Linked DNA regions of Homo sapiens: region 2 is linked to region 1. Evidence: fine-mapped expression QTL. Tissue or cell type: whole blood. Region 1 holds a variant in brackets; the other region holds the start of a gene. All regions are shown on one strand. Distances are from middle to middle.

Evidence for each region. PIP is the estimated chance that this variant, and not a neighbour inherited with it, causes the effect.
Region 2: it holds the start of TMPRSS13, and the variant in region 1 is fine-mapped to the expression of TMPRSS13 in whole blood (TOPMed, PIP above 0.99).

What each region holds. Positions count from the first base shown.
Region 1 is chr11:117,977,318-117,985,697 of GRCh38, forward strand. No RefSeq gene overlaps it. Among named protein-coding and RNA genes, the nearest start is that of IL10RA, 4.9 kb to the right of the region's middle. RefSeq lists an enhancer at 12-181. The variant C/A (reference allele first, on the strand shown) is at 4,008.
Region 2 is chr11:117,925,949-117,933,452 of GRCh38, forward strand. TMPRSS13 (transmembrane serine protease 13) reads right to left here and starts at 3,454. Exons shown (of 13, transcript NM_001077263.3): 1 at 3,339-3,454. The coding sequence starts at 3,359. RefSeq lists enhancers at 6,137-6,676, 6,315-6,444, 6,677-7,215.

The DNA.
Region 1 (8,380 bases):
GGCTGCAGAAGGAAGACACGACTGTGTCTTGAAATGACACGAGATATTTCTGTCAATGTTCTGTTCTTCACTTCTTGCATCCCAAGTTCACAAAGCAATGACAATGGACTAAGTTCATGGACCAGGTCCACAGCCTTCCTGACGAGGTGATTTTCTTAAAATAATTCTGGGGGAGGGAGGTGTCCCAAGTACAACCAAAGGCCCAGTTGTCCCAAGATGGTGTGGTGGGCCTCAGCACAACATACAACCCAGAGTGAGGCCAAACACATCCAGGCCATGAAAGAAAGGGGCTAGATCCCTCTAGTCAGCGTGCTTTTTGCTGAATGTTTCTACAGACCTCACTCCCTCTTGTGTCCGGAATTGGTGGGTTCTTGGTCTCACTGACTTCAAGAATGAAGCTGCGGACCCTCGCGGTGAGTGTTACAGCTTTTAAGGTGGCGCGTCTGGAGTCTGTCCCTTTTGATGCTCAGATGTGTTCGGAGTTTCTTCCTTCTGATGGGTTCGTGGTCTCGCTGGCTCAGGAGTGAAGCTGCAGAGCTTTGCGGAGAGTGTTACAGCTCTTAAGGCAGCGCATCTGGAGTTGTTCGTTCCTCCTGGTGGGCTTGTGGTCTCACTGGGCTCAGGAGTGAAGCTGCAGATCTTCGCGGTGTTACAGCTCATAAAAGCAGCGCGGACCCAAAGAGTCAGCAGTAGCAAGACTTATTGCAAAGAGCGAAAGAACAAAGCTTCCACAGGGTGGAAGGGGACCCGAGCGGGTTGCCAACGCTGGCTCGGGCAGCCTGCTTTTATTCTCTTATCTGGCCCCACCCACATCCTGCTGATGGGTAGAGCCAAGTGGCCTGTTTTGACAGGGTGCTGATTGGTAAATTTACAATCCCTGAGCTAGATACAAATGTTCTTCACGTCCCCATCAGATTAGTTAGATACAGAGTATGGACACAAAGGTTCTCCAAGGCCCCACCAGAGCAGCTAGATACAGAGTGTCGATTGGTGCACTCACAAACCTTGAGCTAAACACAGGGGTGCTGATTGGTGTGTTTACAAACCTTGAGCTAAACATAAAGACTCTCCGCGTCCCCACCAGACTCAGGAGCCCAGCTGGCTTCACCTAATGGATCCCGCACCGGGGCTTCAGGTGGAGCTGCCTGCCAGTCCTGCGCCGTGCGCTCGCATTCCTCAGCCCTTGGGTGGTCGATGGGACTGGGCGCCTTGGAGCAGGGGGTGGTGCTCCACGGGGAGGCTCGGGCCTCAGAGGAGCCCATGGAGTGGGTGGGTGGCTCAGGCATGGCGGGCTGCAGGTCCCGAGCCCTGCCCCGCGGGAAGGCAGCTAAGGCCCGGCAAGAAATCGAGCACAGCGCCGGTGGGCCGGCACTGCTGGGGGACCCAGTACACCCTCCGCAGCCACTGGCCCGGGTGCTAAGTCCCTCATTGCCCGGGGCCAGCAGGGCTGGCTGGCTGTTCCGAGTGCGGGGCCCGCCAAGCCCACGCCCACCCGGAACTCCAGCTGGCCCGCAAGCGCCGCACGCAGCCCCGGTTGCCGCTGGAGCCTCTCCCTCCACACCTCCCTGCAAGCTGAGGGAGTGGGCTCCAGCCTTGGCCAACCCAGAAAGGGGCTCCCACAGTGCAGTGGGGGGGCTGAAGGGCTCCTCAAATGCCGCCAAAGTGGGAGCCCAGGCAGGGGAGGTGCCGAGAGCAAGCGAGGGCTCTGAGGACTGCCAGCAGGCTGTCACCTCTCACTCTCACTTGAGAAGCCATTATCAGTTACCAGAACACTTTGTGTCTGGCTTTACAACAGCCCAGATTCCAATCTTGCCAACAGCTAATAGAGCCAAAGGGACCGGTTCCAGGGTGCACGACTGGTAGTGACCAAGCTGGGGCTAGAAGTAGGTCTGTTGGTTTTGAGGTAACCAGGCTCCTCCCACCTAAGGCAATGACCAAGAACAGTGTCCCAGGCAGATTATAGGAATGAGAAGGCTCTTAGCCCCAGCTCTGCTGATTTAAAGTAATTAGCATGGGCATTCCTTCACCTGGGAGATCAGTACTTCTTCCCCTTCCCCCTAAACTGATGGGCATGACAACCTCACGCAGTCTTCACAGTTCCACAAACTTAGCTGCTATGGTTTGAGAGCCAGAGAGTTGAGCTTCGATCTGGAGACCAAAGTTTTAATTCTGTCACTAACTAGTGAGTTACCCTGGCTACTCACCTTCATGCTCTAGATTTCCTCTTCTATTTAAAATGCAAATCTGCCATATCCCTCTCCTGCCTAAAACCCTTCACTGATGCCTTTCACCCACCCAGCTAAAGTTCTAGGAACTCCCCATTCAAGCCTGAGCCACCACACAGAGTCGAGAGGAATGTTGAGAATGGGGTTTTGTCCCTTCTGAGCTCTTTGGTGCTCCTCCAGGGGGGAGCCAGGGAGAAGGTGAAGGGATGTGGACACTCATTAGGTTTGGCAACTGGAGACTTCTCCCAGGGCCGTTGCTGGGGCTGGGCGAGCCCCTCACTGTGCATCTGCAATTCTCCTGGACCCAACAACTACCAAGTTTCCTACCCACACAGTTTCCTTCTCTGTGTCTCCTTCTTACGGTCAGTTCCCTCTGTGTCTCTCTCCTTGTTATGTGCAGCTCTGACACAGTGATCACAAGTCCTGGAACTTCCCTACTCACCAGTTGAGGGACAGAAACTGCAAGTTACGCTTGTTAGCACACTCAAGCACAGACTTCCTGCCAACTCAGATGCCCATCCGACTCCCCAGGCATGCCCATTTAACAGCATCATCCTGAGCACCAAGATAAAGTCAAATGAAAATGAGACAATGGAACCACCCAGAGCCCAAAATCTGCCCTCAAAATTTCCCAGGGTAACCCTAGGGGCCAGATGTTCACGCAGCAGGTTCCCTGGTTCCCTGGGCTAGCCACGTCCCTCTACCATCTACAAGACTCTCAGCCCTCAGCTGTTCCTCCTCTCTTGCCCTCCCCCTTGTCTTTTTCTCCAACCCCGTTCTCTCTTTCTCTCAATCACTTGACATTTGTCTCTTGCAAGAATTCTTCCAAGATTCAGAAGGGCACTGTTCACATGGTAGTAAAAGCATGAGCTCTGGAGTCAAACAGACCAGTTGAACAGGCTTCTAGCTCTGCTACGTACTGAGTGAATGACATGGGCAAGTGACTCAGTCTCTCACCTCATTTTCCCATCTGTAAAACACTGATAATGATGCTTATCTCACTGAGTGTTTATAAGGATTAAATGAAATAAGGTTTGCAGATTATTCAGGGTAGTTAACACTAGCTGCTATGAAAAAAACTTCACAAAATCTCAGTGGCTTGAGAGGGTTTACTCCTCACCCAATCAATAGGCTGATGCAAACTGGGTGTCTTTTCTGCACAGCTGCCCTCCAAGAGGTGATTCAGGGGCCCAAGCTCCCTCTATTCCCTTGGAGTCCTCCACTGGACACCTCCAGATGGCTGGCAGAATAGCAAAGACAGAGTTAGCAGCCAGGCCTGGAAGTGGCACCCATCAACTCAACTTTACAGTGCTTAAAAGCCAGCCACATATTCTACTTAACTGCAAGGGGGACTGGGAAATATAGTTGCCCCATGTGCCCAGGAAGAGGAACTGGTATTACTAAGCATCTGGCCATTCTCTGCCACAACATGTGAAGTATTTCACATAGTGCCCGATAGGTCATAAAAACTCAATAAATATTAATAGAAGATATGGCCAGGTGTGGTGGCTCACGCCTGTAATCCTAGCACTTTGGGAGGCTAAGGCAGGAGGATCGTTTGAGCCTAGGAGTTCCAAACCAGCCTGGGCAACATGGTGAAATGTCATCTCTACCAAAAAAAATAAAATAAAATAAATTACCTGGGCATGGTGGCCTGCACCTGTAGTCCCAGCTACTCAGGAGGCTGAGGTGGGAGGATCACTTGAGCCTGGGAAGTAGAGGCTGCAGTGAGCCAAGATCAAGCCACTGCACTCCAGCCTGGGTGACAGAGTGAAACCTTGT[C/A]TCAATAAATAAATAAATAAATAAAAATTAAGAAAAAATTTAAAAAGAGAAGATCCTTTAATGATTGCCTCCTATCATATGTCTCTCTACTGGTGTGAATACCAGAATACACAGAACTTTAGGGTGGACTTTTCAGAACACTGAAAACAAAACAAAATAAACATGTGGATTCCGTGTTTCTTTTTCTTCCTTTTCAAGTATAGTAATCACATGCCTGACGTAACTCCTATTCTGGGTGCTCTCCATGAGGCAGCAGGATACATTGGAATAGCCTGCATTCAAATCCTGGCTCTGCCCTGAGCTAGGTATTAACCTATGTTAGCCACTGTGGTTTTCTCATCTTAAAACAAGAGTGCCAGTTTACCCACTTTCCAGGGTTCTTAAAAAATGCCATATTCCCTAATCTCCAAGTAAACACTTCCTTCTGTCTGGAATACCCTCCCTATCCACTCTTCATTAGCTACCTCCTATTCCTCCCTCAAGTCTCAACTTAGATGTCACCTCCTTCAGGAAGTTTTCCTTATCTTCTATCCCAAGTGTGGTTTAGTGCCTCTGTCTTTTGTCCAGTCAGCCTGTACTTGCCTTCCCAGAGCACTTACCACTGTGTATTAAAATCTCTGTTCACTTTCTGCCTCTGCCCAGATTGCTTCTTGGGGAAAGGGACTTAGTTTTGATCACCATTTTATTCCTAGCATCATTATAGCATCTGGCCCACAACGAGTGTGCAGTAAATATTGTCATATGAACGAATTAAAAATTTTGATCCTCCTTCAAAATGGTAACGCGTAAGACTCTTATACGTCAACAAAAAATAAAAGTAAAGACAAGGTCAGGAACTGGCCAGGTGCGTTGGCTCACGCCTGTAATCCCAGCACTTTGGGAGGCTGAGGCAGATGGATCACTTGAAGTCAGGAGTTTGAGACCAGCCTGGCCAACATGGTGAAACCCCGTATCTACCTAAAAATACAAAAATTTCGCCAGGCGTGGTGGTGGGTGCCTGTAATCCCAGCTACTTGGAAGGCTAAGACATGAGAATCACTTGAACCTGAGAGATGGAGGTTGCAGTGAGCCGAGATTGTGCCGCTGCACTCCAGCCTGGGCAACAGAGAGAGACGCTGTCTTAAAAAAAAAAAAAAAAAAAAAAAATTGCCGGGCGCGGTGGCTCACCCCTGTAATCCCAGCACTTTGGGAGGCCGATGCGGCCATATCACGAGGTCAGGAGATTGAGACCATCCTGGCTAACACGGTAAAACCCCGTCTCTACTAAAAAAATACAAAAAATTAGCCGGGCGTGGTGGCGGATGCCTGTAGTCCCAGCTACTCGGGAGGTGAGGCAGCAGAATGGCATGAACCCGGAAGGCAGAGCTTGCAGTGAGCCAAGATCGGGCCACTGCACTCCAGCCTGGGTGACAGAGCAAGACTCTGTCTCAAAAAAAAAAAAAAAAAGTTCTGGAAGAAACATCACAGTGTCTTTCTCTTTTAAAAGGTCGGGGTAACTAAGTAGTTGTTTCAGAAGGCAGCTACACCCCTTGGGTCATGACAGGGTACTCCTGAGCAATTTACCATCTTAATTCCTCACTTGAGCAACAGAGAGTATAAAAAAAATCTTCACACATTAAAAAAGCCTGGGGCTTGCCCTCTCCACTCATCTGGGGGTGTGGCAACAAGAGCTGTCTCCTGAGGGTGGCCCAGGCTGATGATGTGTCCTGGTAGGCCTGCAGATATCACTCTCCCCCATCCATGTAGCTGAGGCACCCCTGCCTTCGCTGACTATCGTCAAGAGTGAGGTCTTTCTAGTCCCAATGTAGACTCTTAGATACAGGATGGGATCTCCCAACTCCCACCCCCAGCCAACCTGGCACACTTTCAGTCCAGGCCACTGGGCAGAGAGATTTCCGCTCTGAAAATATTGAAATAGGGTTTATATCTCCACAAACCATGGGGATAATGCCTCACTAACTCCTAGACCACGCACAGTGCTGGTGTCACACACCTAAGTTAGGGGCCCTTTCTCAAAAGCTGCAGTAAATAAGGCCCTCCATGTGGGCATTGGGCACTGCCAGGGAAACCTCCCAGGAGCAGGTGATAGTTACAGGAGGCAGTCAAATGCCTAGGCAGATAGGGCGGGTCCCTGGTGAAACCCCACCTCCAAGTTGAAGACAACTTAAAACCTGAAAGCCAAGCTGCAAGTTAAATCTTCAGACCAGATTGAGAACCTGTCTTCCCATTTGGCACGCTTTCCTCTGATTGATCCCCACCCTTCACCTACTTTACATACACCTACCCTTTCCTAATTGGTTTTCTACACTGTCGTACCCACCTTTGAGTGGTATTTTCACTTTAACCTTTTTTGCATACTCACAAACCAATCGGCATGCACTCCCTATTCTGAGTCCAGAAAAAGCCCTGGATCCAGCCACACTGAGAAAAAAAAACACCCAACTGTGGGAGCGGGGAACCACCCCCCTCCCCATCCCCTCTCTGCTGAGAGCTGGTCCATCACTCAATAAAATTATTCTCTGCCCATCCTCACCCTTCAACTGTCAGCGAATTCTCATTCTTCTTGAACACAGGACAAGAGCTCAGGAACAAATGAAGGTACAAACTACAATACAGGCAGGGCGGGGTATGGCCGGGTGGGTGGGGCAGCAGGCCTGGAGTGGGGCCTTGCTGGCCAGAAATGTCCTGAGCCCCTCTTCTTTGGTTTGTCTGAGAACAAGGGCAGGGCTTGAGGGATGCACACACAGTCCCAAACACACATATGCACTTGGCAAACAGACAACGTTCTCCACACCACAATGAAATCCAAATCCACAGACTGGCCACTGCAAATCATATATGACTGCAAGTGCACACACACACACACACACACACACACACACACACACACACTTTGAAGCAGGTGTCAGCCTCCAAGAAAAAGTGATGGACAGTCTGTCTCTCATATCCTCACATATTTGGTTCACCTGGAGATGGCCTCAGATGAGCCAAGTGACACAGAGGTGCGAGAGACTGAGGATGTGCTGAGGTGTTACCCAGCACTCCAGTAGTGCTATTACCCAACACAAAAATTGGTCTGAATATCAGATTTCAAGCAAGCAAGGGAAACCCAGAAGAGACTGGGAGAAGTCCTTATGGAGGCTAAAGCAACTCCATGTTGGATGCTAATCCACAGTTTTGGCCGTGTTGGCTTTGGAGCCTCCCAGAAGACCTCTGAGATTCCCAATTTATCAATTGCTCCTTGTGTAAGTGCAAACACTTACTGTAAATCCGGCCCTTAGGTCAAACAACCTTGATGTTATCATACTTCAACTGTCCTACACATCTTTTCTGAATCACCCTTCCCCTGTGGTCTATAAGCCCTGGTCCTGGGGGTGAATCATGGAGACACAAACGTAGCTTCTGTTTATAAGTCCTTATTAAATGTTTTTTTCGAAGAAACTGGATGTGTCAGCCTGTAACCTGCAAAAGGATCTGGCTGCTCTCTGCTTGTAGAAAGAATGGATAATAAAGGAAAATCTGCTAGCTGCCATGCTAGCAGGGGAAGAGCAGCAAACAATTCCACTCTTCAATTCATGGGGGGAACGCAGGGGTTTTTTAAGAAAGGATCTGAAATGCAGAAAAGGCAAGGGGGAGGTTAGGAGGTACCAGGTGGTGTGACTTGCTCCAGTGGTCCTCTTTAATTATCGTCTTATTTGGTGGAGGGGCTGGTGCAATCGTGGATCCTGCCAGGTTATAAATTAGTTACTCTTCAGCAGGGTATATGTTCAACTCCTGAAGTAAGCTTTTGTTGGAGAGAGAATTCCGGAGGTGCCTGGTCCCTATCAGGACGCAGCTCCTGAGGCATCTAAGGAAATATATGACCAGGTAAGAGCATAGCGTGTGCTTAACAAGCACGTAGGTAAATAAACGTGCGTAAGGCATGGGAGTACAGTATGGGACAGGAAAGGGAGTGGAGGTCACAGCACGTCCTGAGGCTGTGTTTTAAGATGAGAGGTAACATACATGCAGTTTGTCTCAAAATTATATCTTGAGGCCCAGAGGAGGAAGAGAAAAAAGGAAAGAAGAGAAACTAAGTTTAAAACACGGTTTAAGGCTGGGCGCGGTGGCTCACCCCTGTAATCCCAGCACTTTGGGAGGCTGAGGCGGGTGGATCACCTGAGGTCAGGAGTTCGAGACCAGCCTGGCCAACATGGTGAAACCCCGTCTCTACTAAAAATACAAAAATTAGCCCAGGCGTGGTGGCACATGCCTGTAATGCCAGCTACTCGGAAGGCTGAGGCAGGAGAATCGCTTGAACCTGGGAGACGAAGGTTGCAGTGATCCGAGATCACGCCACTGCATTCCAGCTTGGGCGACAGAGCGAGACTGTA
Region 2 (7,504 bases), 52 kb before region 1:
CTCACCAATGACAACATGAAACAGAGGACAAGGTGAGGGCTGCACACCTGCAGGGGCACAGGGCAGGTACCAGGGTCCTTGGAGGACGAGGTGAAGGCTGCACACCTGCAGGGGCATAGGGCAGGTGCCAGGGTCCTTGGAGGACGAGGTGAGGGATGCACACCTGCAGAGGCATAGGGCAGGTGCCAGGGTCCTTGGAGGACGAGGTGAGGGCTACACACCTGCAGGGGCATAGGGCAGGTGCCAGGGTCCTTGGAGGACGAGGTGAGGGATGCACACCTGCAGAGGCATAGGGCAGGTGCCAGGGTCCTTGGAGGACGAGGTGAGGGCTACACACCTGCAGGGGCATAGGGCAGGTGCCAGGGTCCTTGGGGTGCCTGGGGCTGGGATGGGGCTGGGACACGGCATGGCAGAGTGACTTGACCCGCGGGTGAGCCATCTCAGGAACTGCCCAGCTCCTCTGGAAAGGGTGCCTTATCCTGGACCAGCGGTGGGCCCCCAGACGGTTCTCACCAATCCCTAGCACCTGTGGCCTTGGGCTAATTTGGAACCTGTTCCACTTGAAGAAGGCCCAGTATAAGAAAATCCACTCCACAAAGGAATGTTGCTTCATCAATGGGTCTAATTCAGTCTTTCTTTAATAAGCATTGCACTGCTCTGAGAATTAAAAATGAGAATTGAAAAAGCACAAAATACGCATTGTCAAGAACAAATCTGGTGTGGCGCACCTGTCATCCCCGTTCTATGTAATTCCAGACTGTCAGGGAGCCAGAAAGGAGCCTCAGGGGGGAATGTGTCCAACCCTCTTCTTTGGTGGGGAAGCTGAGGCACAGGTAGAAGAAGATGTTTGTCCAAATTTATAGGAGCCCACCCCAAATTCTAGGCAGTGATGATAAATTTCAACATTCTCTGACTCCATCTCTATCTATCTATCTCTATCTCTCTATGCCAGATGCTATTCTAAATGAGCCTTACTATGGGAAGGACACTATTTTGAGACTCCTTGAGGTAGGTATTATTAAATTAAGCTTAGCCTAAAGCTGCCTCCTTACATATTTTAAGTTCGGATCAAAAGGTTTCTCTGTACATAATGAACTATAACTCAACTGGACGTGTAAACAGACTGTAAACTACTCTTGTTAACAATCACCAATTTTGCACAATCAAAGGCAGCCAACTGTTCAAACAGTGTTCAAATAAGGCTATTTCTGTACCTCACTTCCTTTTTCCATACACTGCTTGCCTTTTTCTGTCCATAAATCCTCTCCGACCACGCAGCTGTGTGGGAATCTCTCTGAATCTATTCTCCTTCGGGGGACTGCTCCATTTGAGAATTGTTCTTTGCTCAATTAAACTCTGTTAAATTTAGTTTGTCCAACATTCTTCTTTTGAGAGTAGTATTATTATTCCATTTTACAGATGAAGAAACTAAGGTACAGAAAGGTGAAGTGGCTTGCCCAAAGCTGACGGGGAACATGGTCAGTTCTCTGTCCACCACGACATGCAACTTTCTTTTGAATATGAGAAACTGAGACCCTTCTCCACCTCTTTTCCAAGATCCCTCTGAAGATCCAGCAGCTGACAGAGGAGTGCCATCAGGCTCAAGCCCACTGGCCACCATCTTCCTCACGACATTTTGGAGTTGAGGGACAGAAATCACAATGCATCTCTCTGCAATAAAGCCCTCAAGGAGAAGGCACAAGCTCAGGTGACCAGCTTCTCCCAGACCACTCCTATTTAATCAAGGTTAAGAAACCTGCTGCAGATGGGAATACGAGCCCCAACTATAGGCTCACTCTCTCAGAGTTCCATCTTAAATAGGGGAGTGAAGTTAAGAACCTTAAATAAGAATGTAATGATTCCATTCTTCCATTCCAAGGTAAGTTTGGACAATCTTTTTTTCAGAATGAATATGGCACCTATCATAATATTTGACACTTAATTCATAGATTAATTGGGAGTTCCTCAAAGAAGTCTGTTCTCTGTCCTGTATCCCTCCAGCAGCCTTCATGTTGATCCCTGACTCTGAAGAGATGAGCTTCCTGGGAAGATATCGCCCCATCACCCTGTCTCAGGGATGGACTATCCATCTCCAGTGGGAGCATGGCCACCCTCCGGATAGCTCAGCCCTTCTCACTCTTGGGTTTAGGGACCATCTAGTTTAGGCTCCCAGCATATTGCCAAGGAGGATGCCCCATGGCTGTGACTAAGGGTTCACCTTCTGCATGCCCTTGTGTACCCCCCTTACTGCTCAACAGTAAGAGGCTCTGATAACCCCCCAAGGCCTAGGGCCAAGTGACTTTGGTGAGGTAGAGACATGAACGAAGGAGCCCAGAGCAGAGGGCAAGGGAGGCAGCCTGGGAAAGAAAAGTCAAGAGGGGGCTGGAAGAATGGTGGGAAAAAAATGATGGTAAAGTTTGCAGAAACACATTGGGGGTGCAGAATGGACCACAAGCCAACTATAAGCCAAAACATAGGATGAGCTGATCTTTCCCAAACCCAGTGCTAGCCCATTCTTCCCAGAGTCCCAGGCTCTACCATGTCGGTAAGGTACAGAGAATTTGGAGGGGGCAGAAAACAAGACCTAAAGGAGAAATGAGAGCACAAAAGGGATTTCCTGGAGGAAAAGAAAGTGGAGGCACAGCAGAACAAGATCTTTGGAAGCCTTCATGTGTGTATGACTGGCTTTCCCACAGAGGACAGGCCAGCTGCTTTCTCCTACCCCAAGAGCAGCAGAAGAAAGGAAGTTGAGTGGTAGCAGGACTTGTGGTTAAACATCAAGAAGCACTTCCCAAGCATGAAAGTTATTAAGTCCAAAAAGAAGTGACCAACGGAGGTTGAAACATCCCCTTGAAAATCTTGAATGCACCCAGAAAGTCACAGTTTTCTGGGAAGGTTTAGGAGTGTAGTGAGGGGTTTAGACAAGATGCCCCTGAATTGCAGTTAGAATGCTTTTGATTTTCCAACCAGCAAAAATGAGATTAAAGTAGATTAGCCTGGATTCCCAATCGGCAAAGTTGGTGCTGTAACACTATGGATGCCCGGCAGGAGTGCTCACAGACCACAGAGCAGGAAACCCACGACTCAGCCACATAGCCCTGGGGTGCTCACCAGCCAGACCCCAAATCCCAGCAGCTTCTCCTCCCAGGGGCTTTTTCTAGAACCACGTTAAAAGGAGACCAAGAGATCTTGATCGTAAGTAGCTTCAAACTAGAAGAGGCACAGCCAGTTTCCCCCAAACCTGAAACACAGAGGTAGCTGTCCCACCTGTCTCCCAGCCTCAGCCCTGCTTCCTCAGCGCTGGGAGAATCTGGCCCGAGGCCTGAGGTCACACTCACCCCGTGGCTGTCCCTCTCCATGGTCTCTGAGGGGAAGAGTCCTCCAGGCTTAGCTGATGTCGAGGAGAAGATCCATCTTGGTCCCTGGCTTCTCAGGCATGTAGGGTAAAGGAGTTGGAGGGCCAAGGGCCAGCCCCCACCAAATGGGGCGGGGAAGCCGGTTGGGACGTGTGAAGTAATCCCCAGTATAAACAACACAGAACTAGCCAGACCTGTTCCTCTGCCCCTCATCGAGGCCATCCCAGTTACTCAGCGAATACCAAATTCCAAATACCGGGAACCTGAAGCTGCCTTTACTCATGAAACTGCCCCCACAGAAGCAGAGGAGTGTTCTGAGCTACTTCTTCAGAGGGGCCCTGAGAGAAAGGGCAGAGCCTTGAGAGGATGGTCTTGGTCCTGTTGACCTGAGCCCCTGAAACAGATGCTCCAGAGCCTTCTGAGGGATGACCCTATCCCCACAGGGGACGTTCCAGGCCAGGGGCAGAGCCCCACCTATGGCAGGACAGTGGGAACCTTCATCTCCAAGGACCAGGTGTCCAAATCCCAAATCAGGGCACATGGTCTCTGGGCGCATGGTCTGGCAATTGCTTTCTCCTGAACTCTGTTTGTTTTTATGAAACTCTTAACAAAGAAATGAAAATCAAATGACCTTTAATTATGCACATCATGAATTGCCCTCTATTGAAAACAATAAAGTGCCAGAAGCAACACATCAAAGTCAATGAAATAAAACATAACTATCTGAATGGAAACTGTTCCAAGAAACATTGGGCTGACTCGTGATCCCAAACCTATACCCTATTCTGATCCTCAGAGTCAAAAGAAGTAAAGGAAGGGCTATTGCAAAAGGAGTCCTTAGCACCTCCGGCTAAGTTCCAGCTGAGCTGCTGCTGAGAACTGCAAAAAAAAAAAAAAGAAAAAGGAGTTCCTGTTGAGGTTTGGGAAGAACTTTCTTGAGCATTCAGAGGCACCAAGATTTTTAGAGTTTGAAAGAAGCTCATGGATCTTTAGTGGTTCACTCTTTTCATTTTACAGACTGCGAGACAGAGGGCCAGAGAGGCTAAGGAATGTGCTCAAGTCACACAGCAAACAACAGCAGCAGCAATAATCTTAAGATGCCAAGAATCCTGCGAAACACTTCACACGCATCCTTCACGTGTTCATTCAACAAATATGTATTGAGTGCCTGGCATTGCTTTAGGTGCTGGGGACACAGGAACAAAATAGGCAAAGCCTCCTGCCCTGTGGCTCTAGTATTTGCGGGTTGGGGGGAAAAAGCAGACAAAAATCAATAAATCAGTTACACAGCCTCCTAGAAAGTGAAAAGTGCCGTTCACAAAAACAAAGCAGCGAAAGGATCCAGAAGGTAGGGGAGGCAGAGTCCTGGCAGTTGGGAACAGGATGGTCAGAGAGGGCTCTCTGTGGTGACATATTTGAGCAAAAACTGAAAGGAAGTGACTACTATCGCCCCCCATTTACATTCAAGAAAACGGAAACTTCTAGCTCACAGTGGAAACTGTGCCCCAGCTTAGGGTGTCTTGAGGGAAATCTAACCCAGAGGCAAGAGGCTGGAGGAGAGAACTCTGGAGGGCCCAGGCAGGGACCCTAGAGTTCTCTCATCTTGGCTTATTGTGGGAGCCACTTCCCTGGCTTTCAAAGAGAGCAGAATTCAGCCACAGGCCACATCCCCTTCCTGCCCCATCCACCAGCCCACCATGACAAAGGGGCCCCTCCCATCCATCCTCCTGAGAAGATACCCACCTCCTGTCCTCAGCTGCTCCTCTTCCCTCTCTCCCAGGGAGGAGCCCAGCCCCTCTCTGGCTGCCACTGAGCCCTGGCACGCCCAGGCCAGATCCGAGGGCCTCCACTTCATCCCCCAGGCAGGCCACTGGTCTCCGAAGGGCACCCTCAGCCTCCTTCCCTGAAGGTCCCACCAACCTAGGGAAAGAGCTCAGGCTTGGGGGTCTGGGCGAGTTCGGGGGAATGAGAACCCTAACTCTGAGGGGAACTCGCAAGGCCTGACAGGTTCACCATCGGGAAAATGAGAACACATAGAACCAGAGGAAGTGCCTGGCACGGGGCACAGGGCACTGGGAAGGCTGGGAAGGAACATCAGTTTCACCTCTTGCTCTTTTCCTTGGTTTGCATCAGAGACACAAGTTGGCCTGTCCCAGAGTCCTCGCTGACAAAGCAGTCTGACCCGTGTGACATCCCCACCAAGGGCAGTTCAGTTCAGCAAGGATTGACTGCTCAGCACCAGGCCCACGGTGGCTGCTGGGGAGTGAGAGTGGTGGGCAAAGAACAGAAAGGCAGGGGCCCTGCCCTGGGAGAACACACAGTTGATGTGTTGGGGCGGGTGGCGGGGGGACACTGAGGAATGAAATTCCTAGCTGGTGGTTTTCCTATTTTCAGAGTGAAGGCGCTGCGGCAGCACAAGACCTGGATGCTTCCCCCACAGAGCTGGACTTAGAGGCCTGCACCGCTTTTGACTTCCCCACTGACCCTGGCCTGGCCCTTTCCTTCCCCCTCCTCCCGGCCTCCTTTGCTGTCCTCCTGACTGTACAATCCCAGGCTCTCTCTGACTCCCACCCTTTCCTTTGCCTCCTTCTCTCTGGCCTTGGTCCCTGGCTTTCTCCCTTCAGCTCCCTGGTTGCCTTCTGGAAAGACACCTGCCCACCTCTGGCTACTCCACACCCAGAGGCTATTGGCAGCACCTGGGACCCACCTTCTGCTCCCTCAACGCCCCAGGGAGAGTGTAGGCCAGCCATCAGGCCCATTTGTACCCTGGTCATTTCCTACCTGGGTCATTTCCATGTGGAGTGAAGGGAGTTTTACAGAAAAATGTCAGCCATGCAAACAAGCACACATCTCCTGGCAGCTGTCCAGGAGAGTGAGGTGTGAGAAAATCTCACTACTGTTTTGAGACTAAACTCCTAGCTCTCTGCTTCCATGGCTGTTCTAGCTACCACTACCCCAGTGCCTTGGGAACTCCTTCCTGAGGCTCCAGCCTGGGAAACAGAGCTCTGGGCCTTCTATTCCCAGCCTTGTTATCTTCCTTGGAGTTCCCACCTCGGGCCCATGTTCCTCCCTCCTGAGCCTATCAGCAGCTTCACCCCTGAATCACCTCCCAACTCCCTGCTTGGAGCCCTTGCCTACCCTTCCCCACTTTGCACCCCGCTTCTGAGCTTCTCCACCACTCTTGGCACAATAGGTGGGTTTCCCTCCAGGCCTGAGGGCAGCCAGGAAACCAACTACATACTTAAAGACTCAGTGTGGCAGAGGGGAGACACTGGGTCCACCCTCAAGGGGGTGAGTCACCAGGAGCCACCCCTGGGCCCAGCACACCTAACGCTCCTATGGTCTGTACTGCCCCACCCCCCAAGCCCAGCAGTCTTCCCAGCTGCAGCCCCAGGCAGGTCTCTTCCGCCCCCACTTAGCCTTCCAGGGCCGTCCTGGGTCCCTCCAGGCTGTGGTCCTAGCCGTGCCTCTCCCCACTCCAGGCCTGCAGAGGTTGATCGCCATTGAGTTCTGTGGACTAGAGGCTGGTTCTCTCTTCCTGCTTTTCCCTTGGGGCTGGACATCAGTGATCAAGTGAGGCACTTGCCCAGGCTGCACAATTTAAGAGCGTGCCCAAATAATCAAGATAAATCATGTTTTAATGAAATATTTTTAAAATCTGCATTAACGGGAAAAGTCCAAGGTGAATAAAATATCAGAATTTTAAGTAAAGACAGGATCAGCTTTCCATCTGGATTTTGTCTCCCCCTTTTATTACTCACATGTTAGCAGGGCCCCATTTCCCCTCGTGATTATTCCTTCTACTTTCTGCAGGATATTGTCCCAGCTGCTCAAAACATCCAGGCCAACCAAGAGCAAGGAAGGCCTCTTCCCAGGGGGTGAGCTCCCTCTCTGCACAGAGCAGACCTGAGCCCTAGAGAGCTGTTGTCTTCACTGTGAATTTCCACCCTGAGTTCCTTCTTTTTTGTGCCGTATTACTTCATTTTTGGTCTTCCATGAATCTGCATGGCTTACATGTTCTTTGTTGTGGCTGAACAGGAGTCCTCAGAATTAAGCAAACTGGTGCCTGCCTGACCATTTGTTGAACATGGCACTTGCTACCAATCTGTTCTAAGATTTGTTTTTTTAAATTAACAATGCATCAATAA